3 linked regions of the Homo sapiens genome follow. The protein of the gene in region 2 purifies or fractionates together with the protein of the main gene of each other region. This does not show direct contact. Each region holds a gene or a part of one and is shown on either strand. Other genes may lie near its edges. The genes, in order: ARHGAP40, HS3ST3B1 and ATL3.

What was found.
Region 1: the proteins of HS3ST3B1 (region 2) and ARHGAP40 purify together in Homo sapiens (affinity purification with mass spectrometry; one large-scale study listed by BioGRID and IntAct). This does not show direct contact.
Region 3: the proteins of HS3ST3B1 (region 2) and ATL3 purify together in Homo sapiens (affinity purification with mass spectrometry; one large-scale study listed by BioGRID and IntAct). This does not show direct contact.

Annotation. Positions count from the first base shown.
Region 1 is NC_000020.11:38,646,770-38,649,168, reverse strand, and holds part of ARHGAP40 (rho GTPase-activating protein 40), read right to left. Parts: intron 2,213-2,399; coding exon 2,043-2,212; intron 527-2,042; coding exon 471-526; intron 1-470. UniProt on the Homo sapiens protein: GTPase activator for the Rho-type GTPases by converting them to an inactive GDP-bound state.
Region 2 is NC_000017.11:14,299,883-14,303,880, reverse strand, and holds the start of HS3ST3B1 (heparan sulfate glucosamine 3-O-sulfotransferase 3B1), read right to left. Parts: upstream 2,801-3,998; 5' UTR 2,363-2,800; coding exon 1,809-2,362; intron 142-1,808; exon of another isoform or gene 1-141. UniProt on the Homo sapiens protein: Sulfotransferase that utilizes 3'-phospho-5'-adenylyl sulfate (PAPS) to catalyze the transfer of a sulfo group to an N-unsubstituted glucosamine linked to a 2-O-sulfo iduronic acid unit on heparan sulfate.
Region 3 is NC_000011.10:63,661,342-63,665,068, forward strand, and holds part of ATL3 (atlastin-3), read right to left. Parts: intron 1-3,727. UniProt on the Homo sapiens protein: Atlastin-3 (ATL3) is a membrane-anchored GTPase that mediates the GTP-dependent fusion of endoplasmic reticulum (ER) membranes, maintaining the continuous ER network. It facilitates the formation of three-way junctions where ER tubules intersect.

The sequences.
Region 1 (2,399 bases), on a different chromosome or scaffold from region 2:
AAGTCTGAGGATCATTACTCTAGAGAATGCAAAGGGAAACAGCGGCCCATCCTTGGTTCCCACAGAGCCAGGGAACTCCCAGAGCTGGATATGTGTTTGCAGAATTCCTTAAGGACTCCTTGGCCCCTAGGCCAGGGATGAAGTCCATCCCAGCTAGGGTGTCCCAGAGGCGTCGGTTTCACTGGTGCTACTGTGAACCTTCACACTAAACAAATCTTCTGCATCTCTCTGCAAGCCTGAGGCCAGCTCTAGGCAAAATCCAAACTCCAGGATAGGCTCCTAAGACTTGCACAGGCTAACCTTTAACCTTACAGCAGGACTCCACCTGGTTTCATTGAAGACAGAGACCTGAAGGGAGGGCTCATCTGCAGGCCTACTCTGGCCTCCCACAGAAGGGCCCAGTGAGCCTTTGAGGTCGAAGAACTCCCAGGGACCCGGGCTCTGTTCCTGTTTCCCACAGTGGAACTTACTGATATTCCCTCCAACTTCATAGAGGAGGATGTTGGCTGACTCCATGGACCTATGGCTGTAAAACAGAGAGAGAGAAAAAAAAAACTACTGCCTTTTTCTTCTGGAAACATCAAGACCAACAACTGTGCATGGCCCCCAGCCCTGGAAAGGGCAGTCCTCACTGATTTTTGGTCCTGCTGGGGAGAAGCAGCATAAGGACCCTCCTGAGAGAGCTGGAGCCAGTGACAGAGTCCAGCACCCAGGGGCTGGGGAGAGGTAGCTGGAGGGCACGTGGTGAGGCTCAGCCAGGGGTGCACCCCGCTGCGAGGCCCCTTTCTTCTGGGCATCAGAATGGAGACTGCGAAGGCAAGGGAATGAGTGGTGACAGATGGGGACAGGAGCCTGCTGTGAGGGGAAGATTTTGAGTCAAGATGGATTATGGACATTGTATGATTACATATGATAATGATGCCTATCATGTAAGAATCACAATTATTATATGATAATTATGGGTATCCTGAGTTCAATTCCATGGCCTCTTTTCTGCCATGTGGCCTAAGGCAAGTCCCTTCTCTTTTCTGAGTCTTAGTGCTCCCATCTGTTCAAGGAGGAGCTGGATCAGATACTTGCTGAAGATGACAGTCTGAGGGTCCCTTGTGCCAATGCCAACAAGGAAGCTCTTGAGGTCTCAGGCTGTTTCCTGTACCCTAGGAATGATGGCTGCACATCAGCCCCCGACCTTCTTCCAGATCCTTGGCCAGGCTCTGCTCCTTGCTGCAGGACCTTTACTGTGCAGTTTTCTGTGCCTGGAAGCCTCACCTCGCTCCCAGATGACACCAGCTTCCTTGGCTTCCAGACACATTGTTCCCTGCATTTCTTATGAAACCTAATACAGTTTGTAACTTGATCTTTGATTCGTGACTATCTGCTTTATATCCAGGTCTTCCTCAGGACTGTGAGCTCTTAAGAGCAGGGCCTCTGTCTGTTCTTTTCATGGCTAGTCTATAATTCTCTTAATACATGGTGGGCCAGGTGCGGTGGCTCACGCCTGTAATCCCAGCGCTTTGAGAGGCTGAGGTGGGCAGATCACTTGAGGTCAGGAGTTTGACACCAGCCTGGCTAACATAGTAAAACCCTGTCTCTACTCAAAATACAAAAAAATTATCCAGGCATGGTGGCAGGTGCATGTAATCCCAGCTACTTGGGAGACTGAGGCAGGAAAATCGCTTGAACCTGGGAGAAGGAGGTTGCAGTGAGCCAAGATCGAGCCACTGCACTCCAGCCTGGGTGACAGAGCTAGACTCCATCTCAAAACAAACAAACAAACAAACAAACAAACCAACAGAAAAACATGGTGCCTGGTGGTAGGCATTCATTAAATACCTATTAAAGTGAATGAGTGAGTGGTGGTCATCATGATTATTACTTGGAGCCAAGAAACTCTCTAAGATTGGAGAACCCATCTGACCACCCCAGAAAGGGAAGGCCAGGTCAGGCCAACAGTATGTGTAACCCCCTGGTGGCCTTCAGCTCTGGGGTGCAGAGCCCTCCCTGCAGGGAAGAGGCTCCTGCCTCCAGGAGGTGCCTCTTACTGTAGAAGGAGGCTGTCCATGTCCTCACTGTCTTCTTGACCCTTGGAACCAGGGCTGAGGTGCTCTGTGAACTGCCTCAGGACGTGGGCCACTTTGGTGCTGGGGGTGAGAGGCACCTTCAAGGGGTCCTTGATAGGCCAGACCACCTGGATCTTTGCCACCTTGGGAGTCTGCAGAGAGAGAGAGAGAAAGATCCATATACATAAGAGTCAGCTTGCCTGGAGTTCCAACGTGGATGCATAAACACGCATACATGGCACTTACGCAAATGCCCACGCTGAAAATCACAAGATACACACACACGCATACCGGACACTTGGGCACAGATCACAGACATACACATTCCAGATGTGTGTT
Region 2 (3,998 bases):
ACCCGGCCCAAGTGTGTCTGATCTCAGAAAATCCTAGGCTGCCTCGGGGCTCTGGCGGGTTCCACCTGGAAGGGCGCTAGTTATAGCCTGCCGCCTGGCCCTGGAATCACCATCCCAGGAGGAGGGGGAGTGGTGGTGGTAGAAGTCATAACAATACAATCGGTGACAATAGCTAACGATTAGAGAGGCCCTCACGTGCCTGCGAGGCACCTTACCGTACCAGCGCATTCACTCTTCCCATCCCTGCCCAGAACCTGCATTATTCCCACTGCACAGATGAGAGCACCAAGGTTCACGCGACTAGCCAGGACGTGAATCCAGGCGTCGGACTCCAGAGACCCCATTCTTATCCACCAGTGTCCCGAGAATGGGTCACAGCCCGGGAACGGTGGGAAAGATGACTGTCACGGTTGGCTAAACCTCGAGACTTGGGCAACTCCTGACAATAATAAAAAACCATTAAGGACAAAGGGGAAGGGGTAGGACGAGGCTGGGAAGGGAGCCGTTTTAATCCGCGGGGTCAGCCCTCTTTTATTCTCCAACCCACCCAGGTCCCGACAGTGGGGTGGGCACAGGGAGAGGGGTTCAGTTATCTTCTCCTCTTTTGTTTTCCCAAGTCTTGAGCGTCTGTGAAGCTAATTGGGCCTGGAGGGGTGTCTGAATGTCGTGCTGGCTGGGGTTACGGGTGGAGACCCCAACGAAAATGTGGGGGTCGTTACCTGGGCCCCTAGTCGAAGACAGTTATCGGAGGCCGAAATCTAGACCTCCTGCCCACTCGCGCCTTACCCGAAGCTCGGGCAACCCAACAGCTCACCCCAAAGACCAGCAGCTGCGGAAAGCAGTGGGCAGAGGTAGTGATTGTGACCCCGGGGCCACTGTCCCTTTGGAACCTGACCCGCAACCCGACTCGAGAACAGAATTTCCGGAAGCCGCGACCTCGAAGCAACCCTCATTTCTCAATCAATGGGCCCCGAATATTCTTTGCTCCGGACGTGTAAAAGCCCCGCGGAGACACGCGTCCTTGCTTTCCCTATCCCAGCACCGAGGGCAGGGAGGCGGAAACGGGCGGCGGTGCCCGGAGGCCCGGACGCCTTCAAAGCCTCGCGCCGCTCCAGCCGGTTGCAGTGCGCGCCTTTGCCCGACAGGGACCAGCACAGCTCCACGCTCCGCGCGCCGCCCGCCCGCCAGGCGGAGGCGCCGGGCCACCCGCCCGGCTCACCCTCCCGAGCCCAGGCGGCTCGCGAGCGAGGCGGGTCTGACACCCTTGGGGTTCCGGTAACCAGGCGGACTGTAACAAAAAGTTAACAGACTCTGCGGCCTCGCCGGGACGCCGCGGCCCCCACCCCCTCTCCCCATCTGGGAAGCAGAAGCTGCTCTAGAAGTTCCTTGAGGGCGGAGACCGACCAAAGGGGCTCAGAACATTCCCAGCGTCTCGGGCTCCGGGAGGAAAAAATTTAAAACGAGTCATAAAATACGATTCGAGTCGGATACCCCCATGGTTAGAGGGTGGCTCGCTTTGCTGAGGGCGGTCTCAGTCGCTGCCCTTCTTCTTTGCGGCGAGGTCGCCTGATGAATTCAAGGGCACCAGTGCTCCGCGAGAACTTTCTGTGGGTTGTGACGAGAACCAAGCGGAGCGCAACCCTCACCGCACCCGGACAGGATGCGCTGCGCAATCTGCCGTAGTTTCCCTGCCCTACCCCGGGTGGTCCGAAGCTGTAACCCTGCCAATTCCCTATCATACGCCATGTCTCCCTTAGCTCAGGGTCTGAATCGACGATGGAGACCCTGCCCCTGGCAGGGAAACTCACCGGTACCAAGCGAGGCCCTTGTCGTAGCTGCGATCGAAGAAATGGGGCTCGGCGCCCACGGCGCGCACGTCGGGGTGCACGCGCAGAAACTCCAGCAGCGCCCGCGTGCCGCCCTTCTTCACGCCGATGATGATGGCCTGCGGCAGCTGCTTGCTCCCAGACCCACTGAAAAAGCTGGAGATGGGGCTTGGGGAGTCCGGCACCTCGGGACTCTGCTCCTCCGGGCTCGCAGCGCCCTCGGCCATCTCCTTGCCTGAAGCCAGTGGGGTGGCTGGCGGCGCCCGGAACGGCAGCCTGGGGGGCGTCCCGTCCGGAGCTGTGGCCAGGGCTGGCGGGTCGTGTGCGGCGCGGGACCCAGAGCCCAGGAGCAGCAGCCCCGGCGCGGCGGCGCAGGAGCCGGCGCACGAGTACAGGAACATATAGAGCCAGACGCAGAGCATGGCGAAGAGCAGCGCGAGCTTCCTCCTCACCGGCGGCGGGGGCGGCGGCGGCTGCGGTAGGAGCCGGCCGGGGACATCGAGGCAAGATCTGCCGCCACTCAGGCGCTGCCCCATGCGCTGCCCGCGGGCGCGGCCAGGGACATGGCTCAGCACATGGCGTGGGTCCCGCCGGGCAGTGAGCGCAGAGAGGGTTCCCCGGCACGCTGGACGCCCGGGTGGCTCGGTTTATTGCCCCCGTGTGCCCGCGGCCGCCGCTGCTGCTGCTGCTCTTCCCCAGGTGGCGGCGGCAGCTGTAGCGGCGGCGGCTCTTGACATGTTGCCCGGCAGGAGCTGCAACTGGAACGGAAAGTCGGGACGGCGGTAACTGCTGGGCGAGGGTCTGCTCCCGGGGCGCGACGACGCGCTCGGGGCCAGGAGGACGTTGCACTCTCGCGCCCTGGCCACTCTAGACTGTGCGCACCGCCGCACGCCGGGGCTGCCTCCTTGCAGTCCTAAGAACTGAGCCTCGAGCAGCCCCGGCACTTCCCCGCAGAGGCTGCAGAGGCGAACTGCGCAGGAAGAGAGCTGTGGACCGAGGTGGAGTGGGCGGTCCCGGCCTTCCAGAGTGACGGGCTGCTCTACCTACCAAAAACCCCGAACGCCATGCAAATACAGGCGCTTCTCCGAGAGCTCAGCAGCCAACCCGCTCCCAGGACGAGGGGGTGTGGAAAGGCTTCTGGGCGGTGTAGGGCGGTCAGGGGTTGCTATTGGCTTCGGAACAAGGGGCGGGCCCAAAGGGGCGGAGTTAGGGGCTGGTGACAGGAGCAGATGGTGGGAAGAATGCTGCAGTGACCTAGCGCTGGGAGAGGTCCTACCCTACTGAGTGGTGCGCTCCCACACCCGCACGCATTTCCGCACTCGTTCCCTAGAAGCCAGCCTTGGCGGTAGTTGCCCAGATGTTGGGACACCAGTCCCCATCCAGATGTTTCGCAGGAGGTTTCGTGATGCTTACGTGTTGCAGAGTAGGGAGGCGGTTGGAGGAGGGAGAGCAGGGTAGGAGATGCACTAGGCACTGGAACCCCCCCCCCAACCCACGCCGGGGACTCATTCGGAGACCCTTCTGGGACAGGCACGGGATTAGGAAGTTTAAGTAGAAAGGATGTTTGGAAATCGCTGTCGTGTGTGTGTGTGTGTGTGTGTGTGTGTGTGTGTGTGTGTGTCTTTCCTTCTTATTCTTTGCCAGGTTAGCTTGGCCTGCCGGTTAACTGAGATTAGTGTAAAGTGTCCTTAACAAAAATCTCCAGCCTTCCAAACTGCCGAAAGTAGGTTGGGGAGGGGAAAAGAGACAGGAGAAATTACCAGGAAGAGAGTCTGGTAAACAAAAGTTTCCTGGTCGAAACATGTGCGTGGGAGTCATGTGTAGGAAGTTTTATCTGGATATGAGTTTGTTGGAGACGTTAGGTTTGAGAAAACTTTCCATCTCCCCCTTTTTCCTGAATAGATATAAAGCCAACATTTGCCTTAATTTAGGAGACAGTGTGATTTGCTAACCTGTGACACTGATTGTTTCGTGTTGTCATTCACCACCGCTTTTTTAAAAGTCAAACATCAATTTGGAACAAATCCATCACTGAGGTGCACTTATTTAATAGTGAAAGTCTACTCGAAGTCACCCCCAACCACATTTTCTTTGGCAAAATGACCCACCCACCCGGGACTGGGGCGGATAAACGCGTCTTCCAAGAAACAGCAACCGCTAGCTGGGGGAAGT
Region 3 (3,727 bases), on a different chromosome or scaffold from region 2:
ACTCAAAAAGTTTTAGAAGCTATTAATTCTATAGTTCAAAATTAAGCACTAACTATATTATACTTTCCTTACCAGAGTTTCCCTACCAAAGCACAAAGATAACTAATTAATTTGAAATTCAGGCCAGGCACAGCATCCACGCCTGTAATCCTAGCACTTAGAGAAGCTGAGATGGCAGGATTGCTTGAGGCCAGGAGTTCAAGACCAACTTGGCCAATATAGCGAGAGACTGTCTTAAAGAGAAGAGAAGAGAAGAGAAGGCAAGGGGCCGGGCGTGCTGGCTCACCTGCGCAATCCCAGCACTTTGGGAGGCCGAGGCGGGCAGATCACCTGAGGTTGTGAGTTCCAGACCAGCCTGACCAACATGGAGAAACCCCATCTCTACTAAAAATACAAAATTAGCCCGGTGTGGTGGCACGTGCTTGTAATCCCAGCTACTTAGGAGGCTGAGGCAGGAGAATCGCTTGAACCCAGTAGGTGGAGGTTGTGGTGAGCTGAGATTGCACCACTGCACTCCAGCCTGGGCAAAAGAGTGACACTCCGTCTCAAAAAAAAAAAGTGAAAAGAAAGCAAGAAGGAAATTCATTCAGGCTAGACATGGTGGCTCACACCTGTAATCCCAGCACTTTGGGGGCCAAGGCAGGCGTGTCACCTGAGGTCAGGAGTTCGAGACCACCCTGGTCCAACATGGTGAAACTCCATCTCTACTAAAAATACAAAAATTAGCCGGGCGTGGTGGTGGGTGCCTGTAATCCCAGCTACTCCAGAGGCTGAGGCAGGAGAATTACTTGAACCTGCACGGTGGAGGCTGCAGTGAGCCAAGACCGTGCCACTGCACTCCAGCCTAGATTTCAGAGCAAGACTCTATCTCAAAAAAAAAAAAAAAAAGAAAGAAAGAAAGAAATTCAGAGCCACTTAGTAGCTGTGGACTTATGGGAAGTTCACAAAAAACTACCAGTGGGGCGTAAGGAATGAATAAAGAACTATTTCCCTAAGAGTATGTGTCACTGGTATTAAAGATGTTTTTAGGTAGTTAAAAGGACATAGTAATTTTAATAATTATGCATGTTAATGTATACTTTAAAACAACAAATCTGTATTTTGATAAATTATTCTTTAGAAGGATGCTAAGTTTAAGAAGTCTGTTTATTTATTTAAGACAAGGTCTGGCTCTATAACTCAGGCTGGAGTGCAATGGCACAATCTTGCCTCACTGCAACCTCTGCCTCTCCGGCCCAAGTCATCCTCCCACCTCAGCCTCCCAAGTAGCTGGGACTACAGGCATTCATCACCACACCCAGCTAATTTTTGTATTTTTGGAGAGACAGTGTTTCACCATGTTGCCCAGGCCCGTCTTGAACTCCTGAGCTCAAATGATCCACTCGTCTCAACCTCCCAAAGTGTTGGGATTACAGCGACACCGTACCCAGCCAAGAAGTCAATTTAAAGTCGACTTAAGGAGACATATTAAGTAAAGCTTAGTACTGACAGGCAGACATGGCCAAAATCACAGCGACACAGTACCCAGCCAAGAAGTCCATTTAAAGTAGACTTAAGGAGACATAGTAAGTAAAGCTTAGTACTGACAGGCAGACATGGCCAAAATCACAAAGATGGTTCCAAAATGACTTTGTCTAACCAGCACTGAAGGCTACACGATCATGGCAGGCAAAGCAGACAAAACAGTTTGACTGCAAGACTCTCTCCCCTTCAAGCTACTGGAATTGCTGCTCACTTTTTACATTTATAGTATCAGATAGCAACAGAAGGGTTCTTCGCACTTTTTTTTTTTTTGGAGACAGTATTTTGCTCTGGCACACAGGCTGGAATGCAGTGGTGCAATCCTAGCTTACTGCAGCCTCAAACTCCTGGGTTCAAGCAATCCTCCCACCTCAGCCACCAGAGTAGCTGGCAGTACAGGTGTGTGCCACCATGCCTGGCTAATTTTTTAATTTTTTTGTAGAGATGGGGGTCTCATTATGTGGCCCACATTAGTCTCAAACTCCTGGGCTCTAGTGATCCTCTCACCTCAGCCTCCCAGAATGCTGGGATGATAGGCCACTGTGAATGTGGATGATAGCCACTGTGGCTGGCTTCTTCCTACTTTTTAAGTTTTTGCAGACTATTGGAAAACAAGTTATAAATATAGGTTAAATGTCATGCTATCATTGTAATCAATGTATACTAATACTTTTCTTTCCTGTTATTGCCTGGATTAAAAAGGAAACACTTCTGTGAATAATCTCTTAGGGTTCTTATTGCCCCAGCAGCAGGTAAATCCAAGATCCAAAGACCTTCAGTCTTTCATACAAAGAACTAATGAGAAGAATTTATTCAGACTTCAGGGATAAGCCACAGTGTTAAGTACTGTGTAGCACTCAAAGAAATACAAAACAAAGTCTTGATTGTGGCAGAGATGTCTGGTTGTTCCCCCAATATTAATTTCTCCCTCCTGCTATATAATAGATTTTTAGCTGGGCATACAACTGCCCAGAAGAAACACATTTCCAACCCAAATTTATAGCTAGGATATGACCAGGTGACTAAATTCTGAACAATGGGAAGTGACTGGAAATAACAGACACAACTTCCAGATCAGGCATTTTCCCCCTGCTTGCTGGCTAGATGTAAAAGTGGGAGTGAATCATCTTGGGCCAGGCATATGAGGGCAACACCCCAGGAATGCTGGAGAAACAAGAGAGGTCAGATTTCGTATAGCAGAACTGCCATATTGGTTCACTTCTGTGTGAAAGAAAAATAAATGTCTACCTTGCTTAAATCACTTATTTGGAGGCTCCATCAAATACAGCCAAGCCTAGCAGCCAACACAACAGTCTTCCAGGACTTTACAATTAAGTTCATCATACCAGATCTTTTTGTTTTATCTATTTCACTATTAAAAGTTTACTGAGCGAGGCCAGCCTCGGTGGCCCATGCCTGTAATCCCAGCACCTTGGGAGGCCGAGGCAGGCAGGTCACTTGAGGTCAGGAGTTCGAGACCACCCTGGCCAACATGGTGAAACCCCATCTCTACCAAAAATATAAAAAATTAGCTGGGCGTGGTGGTAGGCACCCGTAATCCCAGCTACTCGGGAGACTGAAGCAGGAGAATCGCTTGAACCCGGGAGGCAGAGGTTGCTGTGAGCCAACATTGCGCCACTGCACTCTAGCCTGGGCAACAGAGCGAAACTCTGTCTTTTAAAAAAAAGCGTACTGAGCAATGTGAATGTAATGAGCAATATCAATGTAATGACACACAGCACATACAATAAGCTATTGTTTTTTTGTTTTTTTTTTTTGAGACGGAGTCTCGCTCTGTTGCCCAGGCTGGAGTGCAGTGGCGCGATCTTGGCTCAGCGCAACCTCCGCCTCCCGGGTTCAAGCGACTCCCGAGCAGCTGGGACCACAGGCATGCACCTCCATGCCCGGCTAATTTTTGTATTTTTAGTAGATAGAAGGTTTCACCATATTGGCCAGGCTGGTCTCGAACTCCTAACCCTGTGATCCACCTGCCTCAGCCTCCCAAAGTGCTGGGATTACAGGCGTGAGCCACCGCACCCGGCCAATAAACTATTGTAAAATGAATGAATGACATGTACCATAATGTGGTTGAAGGCTACAACCCAAAGGATCCAAGTGGCATTGTCAGAGCAGTAGACATGGAAGATAAAGTTACGTGGTTACAAGATGGGGTAATCCAATGATAAGAATGTATACAGTTGAGACT